Linked DNA regions of Homo sapiens: region 1 is linked to region 2. The links come from fine-mapping of genetic effects on gene expression. A gene starts in region 2. The other region holds a variant in brackets. All regions are shown on one strand. Distances are between the middles of the regions.

What was found. PIP is the estimated chance that this variant, and not a neighbour inherited with it, causes the effect.
Region 1: its variant is fine-mapped to the expression of SLC7A7 in whole blood (INTERVAL, PIP above 0.99).

The regions. Positions count from the first base shown.
Region 1 is chr14:22,780,032-22,796,095 of GRCh38, forward strand. It overlaps SLC7A7 (solute carrier family 7 member 7), which reads right to left. Exons shown (of 10, transcript NM_003982.4): 3 at 1-20. Among named protein-coding and RNA genes, the nearest start is that of OXA1L, 21 kb to the left of the region's middle. RefSeq lists a silencer at 3,406-3,576. The variant T/C (reference allele first, on the strand shown) is at 4,908.
Region 2 is chr14:22,809,359-22,819,155 of GRCh38, forward strand. SLC7A7 (solute carrier family 7 member 7) reads right to left here and starts at 6,077. Exons shown (of 10, transcript NM_003982.4): 1 at 5,962-6,077; 2 at 3,542-4,082. The coding sequence starts at 4,040. RefSeq lists silencers at 3,925-3,984, 4,005-4,064 and enhancers at 5,372-5,878, 6,067-6,166.

The DNA of each region.
Region 1 (16,064 bases), 26 kb before region 2:
GTTAATGAAGGTTAAGAGACCTGAAAGAAAAATAATACTGATTGGTGACTTACCCTTACCACCCTAGGGCCTTAGACTCCCAAGCAATTTTTCCAGTACCAGTCACCAAGATATATATACCCTTCAGCCAAAGACAGACCCTCTGACCTGCTCTGCACTGGAACCCTCGGGGCCCCAGAATGTCCTCACCATTATCATACAAAGGCCTCTATACTCCCCACCCCCAGCACCTTATATGGGAGACACAAAACAAAGTGACTGCAGATCTGCTTACATAAAAAATACATCCAAATGTCCAATCACAGCAGTGGGAGGCAACTGGGAACTGTACAGGATTAGTGATTGTTCCGGCTCTTGGCTCTGAAAAGTCATGGTCTCTCCCTCCTACCTCCCATTCCCCATGGGCTCCAGGACACAGCACTCTGACTCTGTGGTATTACTGTTAACCTTGAGGAGTTCTGCTGTGACTTATCCAATGCTGAGCCAGCAGGTCAGGCTGTGTGGCCAAGGATTAGGATGAAGGCCAGACTTCCTGCCCACTGCCTGGCAGCTCAGCTGCCTGCTTTTGTGCTTGGAAAGATTCTTGCAGCTAAGAGTGGTTCCTGTAGAATGGGGACAGGGCATTTTTCCTGATGGGACAATAGAGAAGTAAGAGCCACACACATTCCCCCAGTCCTTCTACTCAGAAGTACAGGTTTTAAAAGTACCTTTTATCAGGGTTCTTAACTAGGGCCTCCATGAGGCTCGAAATTCTCTTTCAAAGTGTTATGTCCATATGAATACAGACATACCTAAGAAAAAGTTTCATATCTTTTCTTAGAAAGGGATCATAGCTTTTATCAGAATCTCAAGTCCATTATCCCTCCCCCAACAAAAAAGTTACAATCTACGACTTGAATTTGAATTACTTGAAGAAGTTCAACAAGGGAGGCTCACGCATGCTGTGAGGTTGACCAGTAGCCCCAGAATGTGGCCGAGAAGAAAGTTGGAAAAAAAAATACAGATCTTCCCACTGGTAGCATAGCGAATCGCTTCATTGCTCCCTCCTTCCCAGCTCAGCAACTGGAACACTATAAGGAGGGCTTAACTTTAAAGCCCTTCTCCCAAGGGCTCCAAGGGCAAGGTCAACATCACCCTGCCTTACCAGTCAAGAGAATGAGGCCTAGTACAGTTCTTGCCTACTTCAGGCCACCAACACAGTCAGAAACACCCTCTGAGTTCTCCTGGCAGTGGTGTGGCCTTGGTGTCGCTAGTCCTCCTATTTTGTGGTGTCCTGGCCTCACCACATTCTGGCTACTTCATCCTGAGAAGCAGGGAAGTCTGGCCTCTCAGAACAGCTGCCCCATCTTCTCTCTCTCACCCTCCCTTCCACCACCACCCTCATTCTACTGACTGCCCAAGTTCCTTTCTGCTCTTCCTGAGAAGGCACATTCCTGTCCTATATAAATGCTTGCCTTTCTGCCTAATAAACAACAAACCTTATCACAGGGCTGGGCAAAAATGTACCCACAGCTCCAGGCCACCCCAGTGCTAAGTTAATAATTTAAGACACAAGTGTGCAGCACCCCACAAAATGACCAAAGTGGCTGTATCTTGCCCTCCACAAATCTTTCAAATCTGTCACTCCTCCTCAGCCAGTCACCCATCCTTTACTCCCCACTGGACTCCAGCCTCCAGCCACTCAACAGCTTAGTGCCCCTTCTCCCCAGCTTGTAACCTCTGCCCTTATCCTAGGCTCTGCGGCTGGCTCATAACCACAACATAGCCAGGTTTCCAAGTAGAAACACCAGACACAAAGGATGCTGCCACATTGTCAGGAAAATGGGATCCCCAAATACAAATTTATGATTCCCTGCAGGGTAACCATGAGTCATAACACCAAACTGGAATAAGCTTACAGGACTAGCTCTAGTTCAGACTCAGAGTCTGAGCTGTGTGCCACAAGGTTCTTCTCAGTTCTGTCCAGGGATGTAGGCAGGGAAAAGGAGGGATAAGCAACCAATTCACCACCTGCTACCACAGCAGATTCTGAAATGGAAATACATGGCTTGTTTATATTTTATTTTATTTATTTTTCTTTTTCTTTTTGAGACAGAGTTTCACCCTTGTTGCCCAGGCTGGAGTGCAATGGCGTGGTCTCGGCTCATGGCAACATCTGCCTCCCGGGTTCAAGCCATTCTCCTGCCTCAACCTCCCAAGTAGCTGGGATTACAGGTGTGCGCCACTATGCCCAGCTAATTTTTATATTTTTAGTAGAGATGAGGTTTCACCATGTTGGCCAGGCTTGTCGCAAACTCCTGACCTGAGGTGATCCACCCACCTCAGCCTCCCAAAGTGCTGGGATTACAAGCATGAGCCACCGCGCCCGGCCTATATTTTATTATTTTTTTTTATTTACTTATTTATTGACTTATTTATTTATTTATTTATTTATTTTATTTATTTTTTGAGACACAGTCTTGCTCTGTCACCCAGGCTGAAGTGCAATGGCATGATCTTGGCTCACTGCAACCCCCACTTCCCAGGTTCAAGCAATTCTCCTGCCTCAGCCTCCCGAGTAGCTGGGACTACAGGTGTGTGCCACCATGCCTGGCTAATTTTTGTATTTTTAGTAGAGATGGGGTTTCACCATACTGGCCAGGCTAATCTCGAACTCCTGAGCTCAGGTGATCCGCCCACCTCGGCCTCCCAAAATGCTGAGATTACAGGCGTGAGCCACCACACCCGTCCCTTTTTGTTTTTTTTTTGGAGATGGGGATCTCACTCTTTCACCCAAGCCAGAGTACAGTGGAGAAATCATAGCTCACTGCAGCATCGAACTCCTGAGCTCAAGGGATCCTCCCAGCTCAGCCACCCTAGTAGCTGGGATCAAAGGTGTGCACCACCATGCCCAGCTAATTTGTTTTAATTTTTTTTTTTTTTGAGATGGAGTCTTGCTGTCACCCAGCCTGGAGTGCAGTGGTGCGATCTCAGCTCACTGCAACCTCTGCCTCCAGGGTTCAAGCAGTTCTCCTGCCTCAGCCTCTTGAGTAGCTAGGACTACAAGTGCCCACCACCACACCTGGCTAATTTTTGTATTTTTAGTAGAGACAGGGTTTCACCATGTTGGTCAGGCTGGTCTCGAACTCCTGACCTTGTGATCTGCCCTCCTCAGCCTCCCAAAGTGCTGGGATTACAGGTGTGAGCCACCGTGCCTGGCTGTTTTAATTTTTTTAGAGACGGGGTCTTGCTATGTGGCCCAGGCTGGTCTCGAACTCCTGGCCTCAGGCAATCCTTCCACCTCAGCTATCTGAGGAGTAACTGGGATTATAGGGAAGAGCCATGGCACCTGGGTGGCTTGTTTACATTTTAATCCCTATTGCTTCTCTACTTCTTTTTTTTTTTTTTTCGAGACAGTCTTGCTCCGTCCCCCAGGCTGGAGTACAGTGGTGCGATCTCAGCTCACTGCAACCTCCGCCTCCTGGGTTCAAGCGGTTCTCCTGCCTCAGCCTCCCGAGTAGCTAGAATTACAGACATTCAACACCATGCCCAGCTAATTTTTGTATTTTTAGTAGAGACAGGGTTTCGCCATGTTAGCCAGACTAGTCTCAAACTCCTGACCTCAGGTGATCCGCCTGCCTCAGCCTCCCAAAGTGCTGGGATTACAGGTGTGAGTCACCGGCGTGGCGTGCCCAGTCTCTTCTCTACTTCTCTATCCATCCATTTGTATCCCTCTCTTTGTCCACCAGTATCCCACCTCCCCCACTCCTGAGCCTGATTTCTCTGACCCACCTTCTAGCCCTGATCTGCTCTCTGTACTGAGCACAGAAGGCTCAGTTTGAATGAGGAAGGGAATCCTACAGAAAGAAACCAGGGAGCAGAGGGAACTGCCTGAAGAGAGCTAGCCCTCCTCTTCCTCAAAGCCTAGCTTCCTCCAGGGCCTCTTGACTGTGGGAGCAGGAAATGGGTATGGCAGGCAGCAGTGCTGACAGGGCTTTTTGTCCCCACCTCAGCGGATACAGCTGACCACTGGCCCCAGAGCCCAGCTAAGTGCACTGCTCTTGAAGTGGAGCCCAACCTCCTGCTTCAGGGCCAAGGACAGGAGGGGACCATGGGGTTAGGATAATATGGAGGCAACTGCAAGTTAACCTCAAGGGCAGAGATGCCCTCCCCTTCTACCTCTAGGGGCAATTCAATCCCCACCCAACACTGGGCCAAGTCTATAAGAGGATAACCTGAAATCACCTTTGACCCTTGACTCGGTGCAGCAGCACTCCTGCTTTGACCCCAGGGGGAGAAAAAAAGAATCTGCAAAGAAGTCACTCGTGGCCGGGTGCAGTGGCTCACGCCTGTAATCCCAGCACTTTGGGAGGCCGAGGTGGACAGATCACGAGGTCAAGAGATCGAGACCATCCTGGCCAACATGGTGAAACCCTGTCTCTACTAAAAATACAAAAATTAGCTGGGCATGGTGGTGTGTGCCTGTAGTCCCATCTACTTGGGAGGCTGAGGCAGGAGAATCACTTGAACCCAGGAGGCGGAGGATGCAGTGAGCCAAGATCACACCACTGCACTCCAGCCTGGTGACAGAGCAAGACTCCATCTCAAAAAAAAAAAAGAGAAGTCACTCCTATAACCATCTAAAAAGATGTTCCTGAATGGATCATCAAACCCAGCCTACATACGGTCCCCGGGAGTAGGAGACTAGTTCTAGTGGTAAGGCCCAGCATCAGCGCTAGAACTAAAAGCCAGAAAGCACCAGACCAGGTGGATCCAGAACAGAACAAAGCTTGCAGGCCCACTCTGGATCAGATGCTCAGGTTTAGTTTAGACACCTAAATGAAACATTTCCTGAAAAAGAACATTAAACCCACAATTCTGTAAGCACTATTACCTTTAAATACACACAATGTAACACACAAAACTTA[T/C]GATTACAGGCGTGAACCACCATGCCCGGCGTCATTCCATTTTAAAAGTGATCTATAGAGCCAGGCGCGGTGGTTCGCGCCTGTAATCCCAGCACCTTGAGAGACTGAGGCGGGCAGATCACTTGAGGCCAGGAGTTTGAGACCAGTCTGGCCACCATGGCGAAACCCCGTCTCTACTAAAAATATAAATATTAGCTGAGTGTGGTGGCGCATGCCTGTAATCCCAGCTACTTGGAGGCAGAGGTAGGAGAATCATTTGAACCCGGGAGGCAGAAATTGCAGTGAGCCAAGATCACGCCACTGCACTCCAGCCTGGGTGACACAGTGAGACTCCATCTCAAAAAATAAAATAAAATAAAGTGATCTATAGCTCTTCCTTTTACTAAGCCAACAGCGTCTTCCTCCCAGCTTCTACCAGTAGTGCCAGACCCCTCCTCTGTCTCCACACAGAATGAAGCTAAATCCTCTTCCACCCAATGGCCCTTCTTAACATTAAAGATGAATATCACGGCCAGGCGCTGGCTCACGCCTGTAATCCCAGCACTTTGGGAGGCCAAGGCGGGCAGATCATCTGAGGTTGGGAGTTCGAGACCAGCCTGACCAACATGGAGAAACTCCGTCTCTACTAAAAATACAAAAATTGGCCAGGCGTGGTGGCACATGCCTGTAATCCCAGCTAGTCGGGAAGCTGAGGCAGAAGAATCACTTGAACTCGGGAGGTGGAGGTTGCGGTGAACTGAGATCTCGCCATTGCACCAGCCTAGGCAACAAAAGCAAAACTCCATCTCAAAAAAAAAAAAAAAAGCCAGGCGCGGTGGCTCACGCTGTAATCCCAGCACTTTGGGAAGCTGAGGCAGGCGGATCATGAGGTCAGGAGATCAAGACCATCCTGGCTAACACGGTGAAACCCCATCTCTACTAAAAATACAAAAAATTAGCCGGGTGTGGTGGCAGGCGCCTATAGTCCCAGACACTCAGGAGGCTGAGGCAGGAGAATGACGTGAACCCGGGAGGCGGAGCTTGCAGTGAACCGAGATTGCGCCACTGCACTCCAGCCTGGGCCACAGAGCGAGACTCTGTCTCAAAAAAAAAAAAAAAAAAGCCAGGTGCAGTGGCTCACGCCTGTAATCTCAGCACTTTGAAAGGCCAAGGCGGGTGGATCACGAGGTCAGGAAATTGAGACCAGCCTGCCCAACATGGTGAAAACCTGTCTCTACTAAAATACAAAAATTAGCCAGGCATGGTGGCACAAGCCTGTAGTCCCAGCTACTCGGGAGGCTGAGGCAGGGGAATTGCTTGAACCCGGGAGGCAGAGGTTGCAGTGGGCCGAGATCACGGCACTGCACTCCAGCCTGGCCACAGAGCAAGACTCCATCTAAAAACAAACAAAAAGGATGAACATCCTGTCCCCTTGAGTCTTTACTCCTTCAGGCTAAAACCCAGATTTTACAACCCCTTGTGGAGCAAATGTGGCTTCCAGACCCCTCACCATCCCAGGACTGTCATTTATTTCACTTTGTCATTTACTGCATATACTTCACTGTGTCAGTATTTCCCCAGAAATGCAAGACCCCACACAGAAAACTCCAGACCGTGTTGCCGACTACGGAGTCTCAACCTGAAATCATTGTTTACTACAACTCCTTTCTTTCCCACCTCAAAGTGATGAGATCTTTCCTCCCCTCTTTCTGGACCTATAAAAATGATTTTTTTAGCTGGGTGCGATGGCTCATGCCTATAATCCCAGCATTTTGGGAGGCCGAGGTTGGAGGATCGCTTGAGTCCAGGAGTTCAAGACCAGCCTGGGCAACATTGTGAGAACACATCTCCACAAAACATTTTTTTTAGTTAGCCAGACATGGTGGCACACACCTGTGGTCCCAGCTACTTGGGAGGTTGAGGCAGGGGGATCGCTTGAGCCCAAGTGGTCAAGGCTGCAGGGAGCTGTGATCGCACCACTGCACTGCAGCCTGGGCAACACAGTAAGATCCTTTCTCCAAAACAAAAAAAGTGATTTTTTCCCCCCAGATACAGGACTTCATATTTAGTCTTAGTGACTTTCCTCTGAGTTTTTATGCATTATTCTTATATGATATGGGATTTTTCCTTCTTCATTTTATTAGTTCAAATCCCTTCTTTAATTTTGTGAAATCTGCAAATTTGATCAGCATACCTCCTGAGTCTTCACTGAAGTCACCCTAAAAATGTTGACTAGGGCCGGGCGCAGTGGCTCACGCCTGTAATACCAGTACTTTGGGAGACCGAGGAGGGAGGATCACCTGAGGTCAGGAGTTTGAGACCAGGTTGGCCAACATAGTGAAACCCCGTCTCTACTAAAAGAACAAAAATTATCCGGGTGTGGTGGTGGGCACCTGTAGTCCCAGCTACTCGGGAGGCTGAGGCAGGAGAATCGCTTGAACCCAGGAGGCGGAGGTTGCAGTGAGCCAAGATTACACCACTACACTCCAGCCTGGGCGACAGAGTGAGACTCCGTCTCAAAATAAATAAATAAATAAATAAATGTTGACATGGGCTGGCAGCAGTGGCTCACGCCTGTAATCCCAACACTTTGGGAGGCTGAGGCAGGCAGATCACTTGAGGCCAGGAGTTCGAGACCAGCCTGGCAATATGGCAAAACCCCATCTCTACTAAAAGGAAAATGCAAAAATTAGCAGGGTGTGATGGCACACGCCTGTGGTCCCAGCTACTCAGGAGGCTGAGACATGGGAATTGTTTGAGCCTAGGAGGCAGAGGTTGCACTGAGCCAAGATTGTGCCACTGCACTCCAGCCTAGGTGACAGAGCAACACTCTGTCTCAAAAAAAATTTTTTTAATAAAAAAATTAAAATGTTAGGCCGGGCACGGTGGCTCACGCCTGTAATCCCAGCACTTTGGGAGGCCGAGGCAGGCAGATCACAAGGTCAGGAGATCGAGACCATCCTGGCTAACACAATGAAACCCCATCTCTACTAAAAATACAAAAAGTTAGCCGGGCGTGGTGGCGGGTGCCTGTAGTCCCAGCTACTCGGGAGGCTGAGGCAGGAGAATGGCGTGAACCCGGGAGGCGGCGGTTGCAGTGAGCCGAGATCGCGCCACCGCACTCCAGCCTGGGTGACAGAGCGAGAGTTCGTCTCAAAAAAAAAAAAATTAAAATGTTGACTAAGATCAACAGAGCTGTATAGTCTATCACTGTAGACCTTTCTGTATTTGTCATTATTCCACAATGTTATTCAGCCAACTAAGAATCTACCAAACTTTATTTTTATCTAGTCTACCTTGTCAACAAGAATATCATGAGAATTTGCCACGAACCTCTCCGAAATCTGCATACACATGCCTCTGCTCTAACAATCTAATGATGCTATCAAACAATTCAAATCAAATTAGTATATATTTATGTAGAATATTCATAGTTACACCCTTGCAGTAGTCAAAAACTAGAAACAACCCAAATGCCCAGCAACAGTAGATTGAATAAATACTAAACAGCACTAAGAATAAACAATCTGTAATCCTAGCACGTTGGGAGGCCAAGGCGGGCAGATCACAAAGTCAGGAGTTTGAGATCAGCCTGGCCAACATGGTGAAACCCCCGTCTCTACTAAAAATACAAAAATTAGCTGGGCGTGGTGGCGGGCACCTGTCATCCCAGCTACTCAGGAGGCTGAGGCAGGAGAATCGCTTGAACCCGGGAGGTGGAGGTTGCAGTGAGCCAAGATCCTACCACTGCACTCCAGCCCGGGCGACAGAGTGAGACTCTGTCTGGGAAAAAAAAAAAAAAAAAGTGAACAATCTACGACTACAGACAAAAATACAGAAGAATCTCAAACATAATAAGCAAGCCAGATGCAAAAGTGTACATATAGATTATATCCATTTACATAAAATCAGAGAAAACTAATCAATGCTACTAGAAGTCAGAATAGTGATTTCCCTTTGTGTGGGGTGGAGAGGCAGGGACTGGGAAGAGCATAAGAAGGGCTCAAGGGTGCTAGTTACACATGTGCTCAACTAGTGACAATTCATTAAGCCATAAACTTATGAGATTGCACTGTTCCTTCTGTATATTATATTTGAATAAAAAAATTAAAATTGAACCAAAAAGTGAGGTTAGCAGAGTATGGCTTGTTCTTAGTGAATTCATACACGTTACTAATGATTTCCCACCCTTCTGCTCGTACTTCACTAACCAGATTTAACTTACAAGCCTAGAATTTGGGCAAGAATCCACCTTAAGTTATCACTTCAGAGTGCTGCTCATCCACCTCCGGTGGAAAGCTGGGCTATCACTTGTGGTAGGTAGACTAATGGCCCCCCAAAGATGTCCACCCCCTAATCCCTGGAACCTGTGAGCCATGTTATATTGCATGGCAAGGGAGAATTAAAGTTGCAGATAGAGGCCAGGCGCAGTGGCTCATGCCTGTAATCCCAGCACTTTAGGAGGCCAAGGCGGGCAGATCACCTGAGGTCAGGAATTCTAACCAACATGAGTCAGCCTAACCAACACGGTGAAACCCCGTCTCTACTAAAAATACAAAAAATAGCTGGGTGTGGTGGTGGGTGCCTATAATCCCAGCTACTCAGGAGGCTGAGGCAGGAGAATTGCTTGAACCCAGGAGGCGGAGGTTGCAGTGAGCCAAGATCACACCACTGCACTTCAGCCTGGGCAACAGAGCAAGACTCTGGCTCAAAAAAAAAAAAAAAAAAGAAAAAAGTTGCAGACAGAATGAAGATTGCTAATCAAGTGACAAAACAGGGAAATCATTCTGTATTCTCTGGGTGGGCCCAATGTAATCACAAAAGTTCTTAAAGATGAAAGAGGGAGGCAGAAAGGTCAATGTCAGAGTAGTACAATATGAGAAAGACTCTCCCAGTTACTGCTGACTTTGAAAATGGAAGGGTCCATGAGACTCTAGAAGCTGGGAAAGGCAAGAAGATGGATCCTCTCCTTAAGCCTCCAGAAAGAAACACAGTGCTACTTCATATTAGCCCAGTGAGACCCATTTCAGACTTCTGACCTCCAGAATTATGAGATGATAAATTTGTGTTGTTTTCAGCCACTCAATTGGTGGTAACTTGTTAGAGAAGCAATAGAAAACTCATATGTTGGCTGGGCACAGTGGCTCGCTCCTGTAATTCCAGCACTTTGGGAGGCCAGGGTGGGCTGATCCCTTGAGCTCAGGAGTTTGAAACCAGCCTGGGCAACATAGAGAAACCCTGATTCTACAAAAAATACAAAAATTAGCTGGGCCTGGTGGCGTGCACCTGTAGTCTCAACTACTCAGGAGGCTAAGGTGGGAGAATTGCTTGAGCCTGGGGAGGTCAAGGCTGCAGTGATCCTTGATTGCACCACTGCATTCCAGCCTGGGTGACAGAGCAAGACTGTCTCAAAAAAAAAAAAAAAAAAAAAAAAAAAACCTAACTGCAGGCAGAAAACTGGAAGTAGCACTGGGTGGTACTATTCATTACATTTGTTGAAAAATGGAGAAAGGGGAAGTGAAACCCTTGACAGCTCACTGGATCTTGGTGTACTGAAATTTCCCTCTCACTGCAATCAAAAGAATCTAAATGTGACCTTATGCAAAGAAGGCAGGCATCCCTTATGATAGCAGATCCTCAAACAAGTATGTACCTCTCTCTTTAATGTACTACATGAATCCCAGCTCTTCTAGCAAATCATCATTTTTGAACAAAGTATACTCTTTCATTATCATATTCTAATCAAATATCGCTGATGCCTATGAAATTGTTTCCTCCTTTCAGTAAAAGGTCAAATACGGGCCGGGCACAGTGGCTCATGCCTGTAATCCCAGCACTTTGGGAGGCGGAGGCAGACGAATCACGAGTTCAAGAGATTGAGACCATCCTGGCCAACATGGTGAAACCCCGTCTCTACTAAAAATACAAAAATTAGCTGGGTGTGGTGGTGTGCGCCTGTAGTCCCAGCTACTGGGGAGGCTGAGGCAGGAGAATCACTTGAGCCCAGGAGGCGGAGGTTGCAGTGAGCTAAGATCGCGCCACTGCACTCCAGCCTGGTGACAGAGCGAGACTCCGTCTCACAAAAAAAAAAAAAAAAGGTCAAATACGTTTATTAGCCTTACTTGTAATATTTGTAGATAAGAGTTCAAAAGCATCATTTCTGATCTTCCATCCCATTTTCTCCAAATGCGTTACTGAGCAACTCCTCTCTGCCTTTATTCTCTGCTATGTAGTCTCCAAAATACCCAGATTTATACTTTTATCTAGGCATTTTTCTCCTTGCCTCTAAAATTTCCATTCTAAAGCCTTATTATACACATCTCTCCCAATCCCTATAAACCTCCTCTATCCCTTACCAGGAGTTTATCTTTCTGGTATCTTAGAATCTTAGAATTTACGGTTAGGAACTCTGTTCTGTGTTCTTTTTTCTTTCACATACACAGCCTTCAGCTGACAAAGAGACGAAAATTCCACCTGCCACTCAGTTTGCTACTTTAAACTTCACGTCACCAGTGAGACATCTCAGCTATCTTCTGACTGGTGACATCATTCATCCCACAGCAATTAGCAGAAGGATAGCAGTCCCTAGGCTTAATTGGTGTGAGCAAGCTCTTGGTCACATGTTGCTCAGAAAAACTGCACATTTCTAGGTTAGGCTGGGTCTGTGTATAGTCAGATGCACACTATTCCTGGGGGAAGGCCAAACCCCACAACTGGCATACTCAGGCCTGCTAATACCCTGGTGTCTCCAAAATACTCTACCACTGCTGTTTCCTCAGAAGGTCCAGATATAAGCTCTCTGGAAACGCCTCATATCTGTTACCTAAACCCAGAGATTTCAAGTCTCTTCTTCCTTTTCTTTGCTGCATCCCCATTTGTTTTGTCTAATGTTGGTTTGGGAAAATCTCTACACCTTTTTTTTTTTTTTTTTAATTGAGATGGAGTCTCGCTCTGTCGCCCAGGCTGGAGTGCAGTGGCGCCATCTCGGCTCACTGCAAGCTCCGCCTCCTGGGTTCACGCCATTCTCCTGCCTCAGCCTCCCGAGTAGCTGGGACTACGGGCGTCCGCCACCACGTCCGGCTAATTTTTTTGTACTCTTAGTACAGACGGGGTTTCACCATGTTAGCCAGGATGGTCTCAATTTCCTGACCCCGTGATCCACCCGCCTTGGCCTCCCAAAGTGCTGGGATTACAGGCTTGAGCCACCGCGCCCGGCCTGGAAACTCTCTACACCTTGAAATCACAATTTCACCCTGGCTTCTTTGATACATTATTTCTTCCACTCTCCCTAGGTGCTGTTATTTCTCTCAGATAGCAGATGGCCTTCAAATTATTTTACCTTTCAGACTACAGAAACCTTTTACTCCAGGTGCAGTGGCTCATGCCTATAATCCCAGCACTTTGGAAGGCCAAGACGTGAGGATCACTTGAGGCCAGGAGTTGGAGACCAGCCTGGGCAGCATAGCAAGACCCTTTCTCTACAAAAAAATTACAAATTAGCTGGACTTGGTGGTGCACACTGATGGTCCTAGCTACTTGGAAGGCTGAGGTGGGAAGGTCACTTGAGTGCAGGATTGAGCCCATAACCATGCTACTGCACACCAGCCTGGGCAACAAAGCAAGACTTCGTCTCAGAAAATAAAATAACATTTTTGACCAGGCGTGGTGGTGGCTCACACCTGTAATCCCAGCATTTTGGGAAGCCGAAGTGGGCGGATCACCTGAGGTCAAGCGTTCATGACCAGCCTGACCAACATGGCAAAACCCCGTCTCTACTAAAAATACAAAAATTAGCCAGCCGTGGTGGCGCACGCCTGTAATCCTAGCTACCTGGGAGTCTGAGAGAGGAGAATCATTTTGAACCCAGGAGGCGGAGGTTGCAGTGAGCCGAGATTGCACCACTGCACTCCAGCCTGGATGATAGTGTGAGGCCCCGTCTCAAAGAAAGAAAGAGAGAGAGAGAGAGAGAGAGAGAGAGAAAGGAAAAGAAAAGAAAAATATCTTTTTTTTTTTTTTAAAGACAGAGTCTCGCTCTGTCGCCCAGGCTGGAGTGCAGTGGTGCGATCTTGGCTCACTGCAACCTCCGCCTCCCGGGTTCATGCCGTTCTCCTGCCTCAGCCTCCCAAGTAGCTGAGACTACAGGCGCCCGCCACCAAGCCCAGCTAATTTTTTGTATTCTTTAGTAGAGACAGGGTTTCACCGTGTTAGCCAGGATGGTCTCGATCTCCTGACCTCGTAATCCGCCCGCCTCGGCTTCCCAAAGTGCTGGGATTACAGGCGTAAACCACCACGCCCAGCCAATTAAAATAAAAATTTTAAAGAAACAACCAATTCGCTTACTCAGGTGTCATGGGTGAGAGCCTCTGTAATTGCAAAATTTTGACTGAGACAGTGAAAGAGATCTAACTTAACTGACTCCATCTTGCTTCTAACCTCCAAGCTGCCTTTATTCATTCCCAGGCATAGGCTGAACTAACTTTGGGAGAAACTTAGTTTATAATTTAGACAAAGAGGATAACAGCCCTTTCCCAAAGCAGACCTCCTTCTTGCCTGGGGACTAGATTGCCTTTGTAGGACTAACATTAGCCACAAGATTAGAAATTATGGTTTAGGGCTGGGCACGGTGGCTCATGCCTGTAATCCCAGCACTTTGGGAGCCATAGGAGGGCGGATCACCTGAGGTCAGGAGTTCAAGACCAGCCTGGGCAACATGGTGAAAACCTGTCTCTACTAAAAATAAAAAATAAAATTAGCTGGGTGTGGTGGCGTGCACCTGTAACCCCAGCTACTAGGGAGGCTGAGGCAGGAGAATTACTTCAACTCGGGAGGTGGAGGTGGCAGTGAGCCAATATCACACCACTGCACTCCAGCCTGGGTGACAGAGCAAGACTCCATCTCGAAAAAAAAAAAGAAATTATGGTTTAGGAGTCACGCAGCTGGAAGCTACAAGATTCTGACCTTCCCTAAACTGCTCCTAAGATCAGTGCTTGAGGTATTTTGTAGACCCTGCTCTTGGTGGATCAGCTGGCCCCCACCCAGATCAATAAACTGGCTTAGCTGATCTTGTGGCCCCCACCCAGGAACTGACTGAGAGCAAGAAGACAGCTCTGATTCCCTGTGATTTCATCTCTAACTAATCAGCACTCCTGGCTCACTGGCTTCCCCTGACCCACCAAGTTATCCTTAAAAACTCTGCTCCCAGAATGTTCGGGGAGACTGATTTGAGTAATAATAAAACTCCGGTCTCCCGCACAGCCGGCTCTGTGTGAATTACTCATTATTGCAATATCCCTGTCTTGAAGAATTGGCTCTGTCTAGGCAGTGGGCAAGGTGAACCCCTTGGGCAGTTACACCTCTGGCAAGAAGACACACCAAATGCAATCCCTGTGGGTCACTGGATCAGAGTCCTCCCGCTCTCCTTCCTGGAACTCAGTCAGCACTTTGGTCCCTGTGGCTCTGACCACTCTGAGGGAGCAAGCAGGCAGTTTGTACCAGGAGGGTCTTATAGTAACAACCCCGTGAGTCCCTTCTCCAAGCCGTGTAAATCCAATCCTTATTGGTTTGCTTAGCTAGGGGTCAGTTCAAGTCCTCAGGTACCAGATCTCAAGCCTGAGTGAGCATCAGTACCACCTGAGGAATTTGTCGACCCACAACTTCAGGGCCCCACACCCCAGAGGTTCTGATGCAGGAGACCTGAGACAGTTTCGCAGGCTAATCTGAGGATCTGCTTCTCTGGGTGTGTTTCCTTAGGTAATCACCTACGGAAATAACCACACACAGAGCAGCTGTATCAGAACAGTCGCAACCCTTTGCTAACTCAAGGCTCCTCTATCCTGGCTGCAAACTAGCATCACTTGACGAGCTTTAACAGTCCAGTGCTCAGGCCCCACCCAGACCAATGAAGTCAGAAATTCTGGGGTGGAACCCAGGCATCGGCATGTTTTTAAAACTCCCCAGGTGACTCTGAAGCATGGTGACAATTGAGAACGGCTTTTCCCACCTCTAGTGACACAAGACCCTCATCAATTCTCCTCAAAAGCAATTTTTCTGCTTCCTTAATTCTCGTTCTCCAAGCCAATTCTCATCTCATTCTTCTCCCCAGTGGTTCAGATTTATGTAGTCAGGGAGTGGGAGTGATGAGTATTGTTTTCTTTCTTTCTTTTTTTTTTTTTTTTTTTTTTGAGACAGCGTCTCACTCTGTTGCCCATGCTGGAATGCAGTGGCACAATCTTGGCTCACTGCAGCTTGGACCAAATGGGCTTAAACAATCCTCCCACCTCAGCCACCTGAGTAGCTGGGACTACAGGCATGCACCACCATGCCCAATTAATTTTTTTTTTTTTTTTTTGTAGAGACCAAGTTCTCCAGACTGGTCTCCTGAGCTTAAGCCATCCTCCTACCTCAGTCTCCCAAAATGCTAGGATTACAGGTGTGAGCCACCGTGCCCAATCTGAGTATTGCTTGCTTGCTTTCTTTCTTTCTTTCTTTCTTTCTTTCTTTCTTTCTTTCTTTCTTTCTTTCTTTCTTTTCTATTCTTTTCTTTTCTTTTCTTTTCTTTTCTTTTCTTTTTTAATTGAGACAGAGTCTCACTCTGTCGCCCAGGCTGGAGTGCAGTGGTGCAATCTCGGCTCACTGCAAGCTCCGCCTCCCGGGTTCACACCATTCTCCTGCCTCAGCCTCCCGAGTAGCTGGGACCACAGGCGCCTGCCACCACACCCAGCTAATTTTTTGTATTTTTAGTAGAGACGGGTTTCACCATGTTAGCCAGGATGGTCTCAATCTCCTGACCTTGTGATCTGCCCGCCTCGGCCTCCCAAAGTGCTGGGATTACAGGCGTGAGCCACCGTGCCCGGCCTTGTTTTCTTAATTCTCCAGATGATTCCAATCCACAGCCAGAGTTAGGACCCACTGCTGCCCAGCATCTTCCGCAACCTCCTCTAGGCTACCTGCCCAGCTTCTTCTGAGGCAGAGAGAAAAAGAAAGGAACATAGAAACATAGAACATAGAAAGGAAGAGAGCAAGGATGAGCCCCCAAAGGGACTTGATGATCAAAGCAGCATAAAGGTCTACCCCTTCACTGCTGGTCAAGAGTTTGTTCCAAAGTTCACAACAAACCCACACTAGAACCCAAGGCTCTGATGAAAGCCTATTTCTTGAGGTGAATATGGGCCAGAAAAG
Region 2 (9,797 bases):
GAGACAGAGTCTGGCTCTGTCACCCAGGCTGGCGTGCAATGGCGCGATCTCTGCTCACTGCAACCTCTGCCTCCCGGGTTCAAGCGATTCCCCTGCCTCAGCCTCCCAAGTAGCTGGGACTATAGGCACGCACCACCACACCCAGCTAATTTTTTTGCGTTTTTCATAGAGACGGGGTTTCACCATGTTGGCCAGGATGATCTTGATCTCTTGACCTCGTGATCCACCCATCTCGGCCTCCCAAAGTGCTGGGATTCCAGGCGTGAGCCACCATGCCCGGCCTTTTTTGTATTTTTAGTAGAGAGGGGGTTTCACGATCCGCCCATCTTAGCTTCCCAAAGTGCTAGGATTACAGGCATGAGCGACTGCACCCGGCCTTTGCATGTATTCTTACAAGGATGTACAGGCACGTGAATGTGTACATGGGTGAATGAGGATTTAAACATGTATGTCTCTATACCCAAATTAGAAGCAGAAAATTGGCCAGGTGCAGTGGCTGTGAAATCCCATCTCTTCTAAAAATACAAAAAATTAGCTTGGCGTGGTGGCGGGCGCCTGTAATCCCAGCTACTTGGGAGGCTGAGGCAAGAGAATCGCTGGAACTCGGGAGGCGGAGGTTGCAGTGAGCTGAGATCGCACCATTGCACTCCAGCCTGGGCAACAAGAGGGAAACACTGTCTCAAAAAAAAAAAAAAAAAAAAAAAAGCAGCAACAGCAGAAAATTAAAAAGGGTTGACTGGCAGAGGTAGGCACAAGGTCAGAATCGAGGAACAAGAGCTGTCAGAAATGACACAGACAAAGATAGTTAAAATAATAGAATTCTAAGGCCGGGAAGGTGGCCCATGCCTGTAATCCCAGCACTTTGGGAGGCCGAGGTAGGCGGATTACCTGAGGTCCGGAGTTCGAGACTAGCCTGACCAACATGGAGAAACCCCATCTCTACTAAAAATACAAAATTAGCCGGGCATGGTAGCACATCTGTAATCCCAGCTACTCGGGAGGCTGAGGCAGGAGAATCACTTGAACCTGGGAGGCAGAGGTTGCGGTGAGCCAAGATCACGCCATTGCATTCCAGCCTGGGCAACAAGAGCGAAACTCCATCTCAAAAAAAAAAAAAAAAATAGATTTCTGGTATTTTAAAGGAATGCAGCCATCTTAGAAATATTACTTAGATGAAATGATCCTTCTCTGCACATGATATAATTAACCATATGCCCACATTTGAGGGTGCTCCAAGACCAATAGATCCTAAAATTAGTTTTGCCAGTAAGCAACCTACCAGATCATCTGCAAGTAATGCAAGAGAAATCACAGATCATATTTAAGACCTCAGTGAAGGCTGGGCACAGTGGCTCATGCCTGTAATCCCAGCACTTTGGGAGGCCAAGGCGGGCGGATCACCTGAGGTCGGGAGTTCAAGACCAGCCTGACCAACATGGAGAAACCCTGTCTCTAATAAAAATACAAAAATTAGCCAGGCGTGGTGGCACATGCCTGTAATCCCAGCTACTTGAGAGGCTGAGGCAGGAGAATCACTTGAACCCGGGAGGCAGAGGTTGTGGTGAGCCGAGATTGTGCCATTGCACTCCAGCCTGGGCAACAAGAGTGAAACTCCGTCTCGGAAAAAAAAAACCTCAGTGAAAACCCCCTTCTTGCAACACAAAGCAGTGCCTTCCACCCCTCCCTGACTGTTGCCATGTATGACAAACATCCCATATGCAGAGATGAGTCCAGGCCAGACACAAGGACACACAAAACACAGAAGGACCCCACAGAAGACAGCCAGTTCTCTACACAACAGTAAAATCAGAGAAGCTGGAAAGGAAGTTGAGGAGTGAATGGGGCAATACAGAAATTGAAAGAAAAAAGGACACAAACTGATTGGAGAGCGGTGAGCCAATGAGCAATTGCACCTGGTGCAAAATTCCTGTGCCCCAACTGCTAGAGCAGCTGCCCCTCAAATTGACAGAATGTCTGAGCTTCTTCACAGTTGCAGGGTGGAAGGCATCTCTAAGGTCCTAGGCTCTCCCAGGTTGGAAGGGCATTTTTCAAGAATAGTGGCATCTGAGGGATGGGGCTATGGAGAATCATCATCTCAGCACCTCCAATGGCTTTACTGAATGTACAGATTTAAATAATGTTTTATTTATGAGATGGAGAAAAAGCCAAGGTGGACTGAAATGACAGTATTAAAAATCTAGCCCACAGAGGCCGGGTGCAGTGGCTCACGCCTGTGATCCCAACACTTTGGGAAGCCAAGGCAGGTAGATCACTTGAGCTCAGGAGTTCGAGTCCAGCCTGGCCAACACAGTGAAACCCCGTCTCCACCAAAAATACAAAAAAATTAGCTAGGCATGGTGGCACATGCCTGTAATCCCAGCTACTAGGGAGGCTGAGGCAGGAGAATCACTTGAACCCAGAAGATGGAGGTTGCAGTGAGCTGAGATTGCACCACTCAAGCCTGGGCGACAGAGTGACTCTATCTCAAAAAAAAAAAAAAAAAAAAAGGAAGAATCCAGCCTACAGAAATACTCATGCAGCTGCAAAAAGATATTCACTGGAGCATTATCTGTAAGACTGAGAAACTGAAACCAACGTACATGGCCATTAACAGAGGACCAGCTAGATAAATAAACTACTATGCATCCTTAAAATTCACATGAAATAATATGAAGCATTTTTTAAAAAGTAGATCTGTAAGTAGAAAAGAATGTCACTGATAATGCTAGAGGAAAAGCACACTGTAGAATTACATGTAGACTAGTATGACCTCATTTTTGTAAAAGAACAAAACTACACCTCTTTTTTTTTTATTTTTATTTTTTTGAGATAGAGTCTCACTCTGTTGCCCAGGCTGGAGTGCAGTGGTGCGATCTTGGCTCACCGCAACCTCTGCCTCCTGGGTTCAAGCGATTCTCCTGCCTCAGCCTCCTGAGTAGCTGGGATTACAGGCACCTGCCACCACACCCAGCTAATTTTTGTATTTTTAGTAGAGATGGGGTTTCACCATGTTGGCCAGGCTAGTCTCGAACTCCTGACCTCAGGTGATCTGCCCACTTCAGCCTCCCAAAGTGCTGGGATTACAGGCATAAGCCACCACACCCTGCCAAAACTACATCTCTTGAAGGAACAAGAAAAAAAAATCAGTGTGCCTGTGGTCCCTGCTACTCAGGAGGCTGAGGCAGGAGGATAGCTTGAGCCTAGAAGTTCGAGGCTGAAGTAAGGTATAATCACACCACTGCACTCCAGTCTGGGTGACAGAGCAAAATACCTGTCTCTTTAAAAAAAAAAAAAAAAAATCAGGAAGAATATGCAAACTGCTAATAGTGCTTACTGTGAGAAGCTGGGGAAAAGGTGAGTGTTTTTGCGATACACTGTGGTACTGTTTGAATTTTCACACAAAGCATACTTTAACTATATATATATATATATATGTTGTCAGAGACATTCCTCTCTATCTCCTTCTTACTCCCAGACTGCACTCACATCCCAGCCTCTGTCCAGCCCTCCACCCACCACCTCCTACCCCAGCCCCACTTACAAATGCAGGCAGCAGCCAGCAGGCGGCTGGCAGCATAAGGGGCGAAGCAGCTCGGGAAGAGAGGCTGTACCATGTAGTTGGCAAAGGTGATGGCAATGATGGCCTGGCTGGTGGGCTCAATGATGAGCAGGGAGGTCCAGAGTCTGATGAAAGCAAGGAATCCTCCAAAGGCCTCCAGGATATAGGCATAGCTGGCCCCAGATTTCTTAATGGTGGTGCCCAGTTCCGCATAACAAAGGGCCCCAAAGACGGAGAAGAGGCCCCCGACAGCCCAGATGACCAGAGAGAGACCAAAGGAGGCACTGTATATGAGCACACCCTTGGGGGAAACAAAGATGCCCGAGCCGATCATGTTCCCCACAATCAGGCACACGCCGTTAAGCAGTGAGATCTCCTTCTTCAGCTTCACCTGCTCCGGCCCTGGGCTGGCCCCATCACCCAAAGGGGAGGTTTCCACCTCAGGCTGGGAGGCCACTTCATACTCAGTGCTGTCAACCATGGTGGAGGAGAGGAAACCCTTCACCAGCTTCCTGGCATTGCCCTTTAAGGAAGAAAGATGATGCTATAGATTAGGTGGTTGGCAATTACATAGAACCTCTACCCGCCTCCAACACAGGGTAATACGGGCAGCTCACCAACCAATGCGGAGACCTCCAAATAACCTTTTCTCCAGCTCACTCATCAAAACAACCCCAACTTGAATATTTGTCTATCTATCTATGTATTTATTTATTTATTGACAGAGTCTCGCTCTGTAGCCCAGGCTGGAGTGCAGTGGTGCAATCTCGGCTCGGCTCACTGCAACCTCAGCCTCCCGGGTTCAAGCGCTTCTCTTGCCTCAGCCTCCCAAGTAGCTGGGATTACAGGCACCTGCCACCACGCGTGGCTAATTTTTTTTTTTTTTTTTTGAGATGGAGTTTTGCTCTTGTTGCCCAGGCTGGAGTGCAATGGCGCGATCTCAGCTCACTGCAACCTCCGCCTCCCGGGTTCAAGTGATTCTCCTGCCTCAGCCTCCCAAGTAGCTGGGATTATAGGCATGCACCACCACACCCAGCTAATTTTGTATTTTTAGTAGAGATGGGGTTTCTCCATGTTGGTCAGGATGGTCTCAAACTCCCGACCTCAGGTTATCCGCCCGCCTCGGCCTCCCAAAGTGCTGGGATTACAGGCGTGAGCCACCTTGCCCAGCCTCCAACTTGAATTTTTAAGAGAAGGCACTCATTCGCCAGAGAGAAAGGATCTGTCTCTCATCATTAGGACATTGCTGCCCACCCGACTCACCAAATAGAGAACTAAATCTTGGGCCGGGCGCTGTGGCTCACATCTGTAAACCCAGCACTTTGGGAGGCCAAGGCGGGCAGATCACCTAAAGTCGGGAGTTCGAGACCAGCCTGACCAACATTTAGAAACCCAGTCTCTACTAAAAATACAAAAATTAGCCATGCGTGGTGGCACATGCCTGTAATCCCAGCTGCTTGGGAGGCTGAGGCAGGAGAATCACTTGAGCCCGGGAGGCAGAGGTTGCGGTAAGCTAAGACTGGGCCATTGCACTCCAGCCTGGGCAACAAGAGCAAAACTCTGTCTCAAAAAAAAAACAAAATCAAAAACAAAACACTAAATGTTGGTTCTCTCTGAGCCTGCTATAATACAAGACAGGCATGGGGGCAGTGTGGCGGCTCCCAGAAAATAACTATAATGGCTTGACCCCGAGTTTTCAGCCTTATCCAAAACCCGTCTTCCCTCCAATTTCAGCTTCAGGGATCACCTGTGCTGAGGTACAACATTAGGAACTGACCCTACCAGCAGCTAATCTGTGGGAGCGTCTCATGACACTGCTCTTTTCCCCAAGGACTCTACGTCTGCCAAAACTAAAGGCTTCAGAAACCTGCTGGAAACCCACAACCATCCTCCTGCCCAAAGAGCATCCCTTAACCCTTAGCTGGAGTCTTCAGCCCTGGCAAAGCCCAAGTAGACCCACTTCACCCTGAAAGAAGACAGGCTATTATCTTTTCCTTGCTTTTCCTTTCCCATTCTCTGGTATTCTAAGCCTCCTGCTATCGATCCCTCACATCAGCATCGTTGAATCACCCAAAAAAGTATGAATGAGAGAAGGGCGATCCAATGTACCATAAAACCTAGGGATGATTGGAGGCAGCTGATGGCCACTCCCTACCCCAGAGTTGCTGCTGGAGAGATATCACCCCGAGCCAAGGCAGGGAGACAGCTGCAGCCAGGCAGCACATGCTGGAAAACACCGAACAGGAGACAGCTGAGAGGAAAATGGGAGAGGCTAGTCAAGCAATGGAGAGATGTTAGGGTGAGAGGCACTCGGGAGAAGAAGCGATTAGACACTGCACAGCAGCAAAGAGGAGGGTTAGCAAGGTAAGTGGAGATGAGAAGAGGGTGGAACGCACACTCACTCCTTGGTCCTGGATATAAGCAGGTTCTCACGGCAGTGTGAGCAGCAGTCAGGGAGAGAAGTGCCTTCCAGGATCTGTGGTCTGATGCTCCTCCTTCCCAGCCAGCAGTAAAAGGGAAGGCCAGACAAATGCCTATGGATTTAAGCAAGAAGGGTGGAGGAGGTGAGGCAGCCCGCAAAGGAAGGAGTGAGGGAGGGGGAAAGGAGTATTAAGCAACCATCTGGGTCCAAGGTTCACTGGCCCTTCACATCTGCAAAAGGGGCAGCTAGGAGCTCTTGGCTCAGCACTTTCTGTGATAAGAAGGTGCTCTCTCAGGAATCTCCTTTGTCAGCTCTGCTCTGGGACCAGGGGCCCAGAAGAAAGGACAGTCAGCTGAGTGCAGTATCTGTAGCCCTGGGGAAGCTGTCCCAGAGCAAGTTAGCTGAGGACAGGACAGTAGCGGGGAAGGAATACACAGCACTCTCTCTCTCTGTGTCCTCCATGCCCCACCCTAGCCTCTCTTCTCTCTCACCCCAAGCATTTAAGAAAGGGAGGAAGGTTGCACAGTGTGACACAAAGGCTTGTTCCCATGCTGAGATTACAGGAAGTGTAAGAGCAGTCTCTACACCATGTGACTGGGTGTTCTAAGAGAACTCTGCACACTTCCCCATGCAAAGAGAGACTGGGGGGTTGCCTCCAAGCCTGGGCCACTGCCCCAAAGTCTGAGCCTCAGACTACTTCAAAAGAAACACAGTCAAGAGATCAAATATCTGACTGCATCCCCACCAGACCCACGTGCCTTTTCATTCTTGACAAAACATACCAAGATCTCTGGGATAAGCATAAATTCCTATAAACGCCTTCCTCAAATATAAGTTGACTCCACTTTCCTAAAAAATATGAGGAAATCAGGCCAGACGCGGTGGCTCACGCCTGTAATCCCAGCACTTTGGGAGGCTGAGGCAGGCGGATCACAAGGTCAGGAGATCAAGACCATCCTGGCTAACACGGTGAAACCCCGTCTCTACTAAAAACACAAAAAAATAAAAATTAGCCGGGCGTGGTGGCGGGCACCTGTAGTCCCAGCTATTCGGGAGGCTGAGGCAGGAGAATGAGGAGAATGGCATGAACCCGGGAGGCGGAGCTTGCAGTGAACCCACATTAGGCCACTGCACTCCAGCCTGGGCAACACAGCAAGACTCCATCTCAAAAAAAAAAAATTAAAAAAGAATATGAGGAAATCAGATTTCACTGAATTCTGTTGGACAGACAGGCCCAGAACAGGCAGAGGAAGCTGAGCACTTTTTGGAAATCACATAGTTTATGCTATCTTTATTATTTACTTTAAATCTGGTATTCTGAGTCTCTTTTACCAACAGAAATAGACCCTATCCATTCTGAAATCCAACTGTCTGTTTCTTCTCCTATCTGTTCTAACCCTCTTTGGTTATTCTACAACCAGAGAATAGAGATCTAAATATCTCTGGGAGACATCTCTACCATACATCCTCCCATTCTAGCTCTTTAAACTTTTAATTTAATCTAGGAGGAGGATTCTGGTGTGAGCGTTCCCAGAGATCATGCTTCTCCCAAGACAGGCTCACAATGATCTGAAATCCTTCTGGAGGAGACTCTCCTTTTCTCCAAAATGCTCCTGTAATAATAATTGCTATCACTTATTGAGCACTTACTGGGCCAGACACACTGCTAAGGACTTAAGCACATTATCTCATGGAACCTCCAGAGCTCATATACTCTTAATCACACAAGTATACTATCTCTCCATCTCCCCATCCCCCTGGCCTGCCTTAGTCTCTAGGCCTTCCTTTTATTTTTTTTTTTTTTTATTTATTTTCTTTTTTTGAGACAGAGTCTCACTCTGTCCCCCAGGCTGGAGTGCAGTGGCACGATCTTGACTCACTGCAACCTCCACCACCTCCTGGTTCAAGCAATTCTCATGCATCAGCCTCCTGAGTAACTAGGATTACACCTGGCTAATTTTTGTGTTTTTATTTCGGTATTTTTATTTTATTTTATTTTATTTTATTTTATTTATTTTGAGACAGACACTTACTCTGTCGCCCAGGCTGGAGTGCAGTGGTGCAATCTCGGCTCACTGCAACCTCCACCTACTGGGTTCAAGCAATTCTCCTGCCTCAGCCTCCCGAGTAGCTGGGATTACAGGTGCACACCACCACGCCCAGCTAATCTTTTTTGTTTTTAGTAGAGTCGGGGTTTCACCACATTGACCAGGATGGTCTTAAACTCCTAAACTCAGGCAATCCGCCCACCTCGGCCTCCCAAAGTGCTAGGATTACAGGCATGAGCCATTGTGCCCAGCCTAATTTTTGTATTTCTAGTAGAGACGAGGTTTTGCCATGTTGGCCAGGCCGGTCTTGAACTCCTGGCCTCAACTGATCCACCTGCTTCTGCCTCCCAAAGTGATGGGATTACAGGCGTGAGCCACCGATGCCACCTTAGACCTTGCTTTTGGACAGGAATTATCTACATGAATTACCTGGGGGAAGATGTAAGCAGACTAGATTAAAAAGAAAGAAAGCCTCTGTCATCCTTCAGTCTATAGCCTAGACGAAAGGCTCCAACAAAGTTTGTTAATCTCCTTCCTGGCTGCCCCTCCCCTTTCTCATTCTTTGCAGGGATAAGAGGTGATTACAAGTCCTCTTGGCAGTGCTGCTATTGCTAGGGTGCCCACTTCTAAAGCAAACAAAAAAAAAAACACAAACACATCATCACGCCTGCCCTTTTAAGACCAAATTCACTGGCACCAAGGGGTGGGCATGTGTCCTAATATGACGTAAAAGAAAGGAAGGAAGGAGGGACAAAGGAAGGGAAAACTGTGAGGGGGAATGGAGAGAGAAGTGTACAGGGTTTCATTCCTGACTGGTAGCATCTGAAAAGTGAAGTCCTATCCGTGGAATTTTGAGACAGAAATCTGCTGGGGGTAAAACCCACACTCCAGCAAACAGCACGCCCTAGTGGTAGCACCAGGAAGTGCTAGTGGACTCTAACCTACTTCAGTCTGCCCGTGCGCACTAGGCAAGGGAGGCTGCCATGCATTGAGAACATGAAGACCCCCTCTTTTCTCAACCACTACCTAGCACCCTGGACAAGAAGGCACCATCTTTGGCAGCTCACATTTCTCCCTGAGACCCTGGGTCTTAGGGTAATGCTTCCACCATTCAGGCAGCCCCACCATTCAGGCAGCCTGGGACCAGCAACACCCCTAGGCTCTCCCAAAGGGGCTCTTCTACCCCAGGTTTTTGGTTTTTTTTTTTTTTTGGTTTTTGGGTTTTTTTTACCCGAGATGGAGTTTTGCTTTGTCCCCCAGGCTGGAGTGCAGTGGCACAATCTCTGCTCACTGCAACCTCTGCCTCCCGGGTTCTCCTGCCTCAGCCTCCCAAGTAGCTGGGATTACAGGTGCCCGCCACCGCGCCCAGCTAATTTTTGTATTTTTAGTAGAGATGGGGTTTCACCATGTTGTCCAGGCTGGTCTCGAACTCCTGACCTCGTGATCCTCCCACCTCAGCCTCCCAAAGTGCTGGGATTAAAGGTGTGAGCCACCGTGCCTGACCCACCCCAGGTTTTACATGAGAAACCCCATAAGATAACAGCAGCCCTTGTTGCCTTTCCCTGTCTGAGATGCATTCATCTCTGAACACCCAGTGAAGATTACAGGACAACACACTCATCCTACAGCTTGTGGAAGAAATTTGATTCAGAAACTGGCAGCAGGGCCTCCAGTATGCAGTGCTGGGCAGGACAGCCAATGGAGCCCCTCACCCTAACCTCACCCTCGAATGACAACACCAAAACACAATTTCTCCAGGAACTAGTAC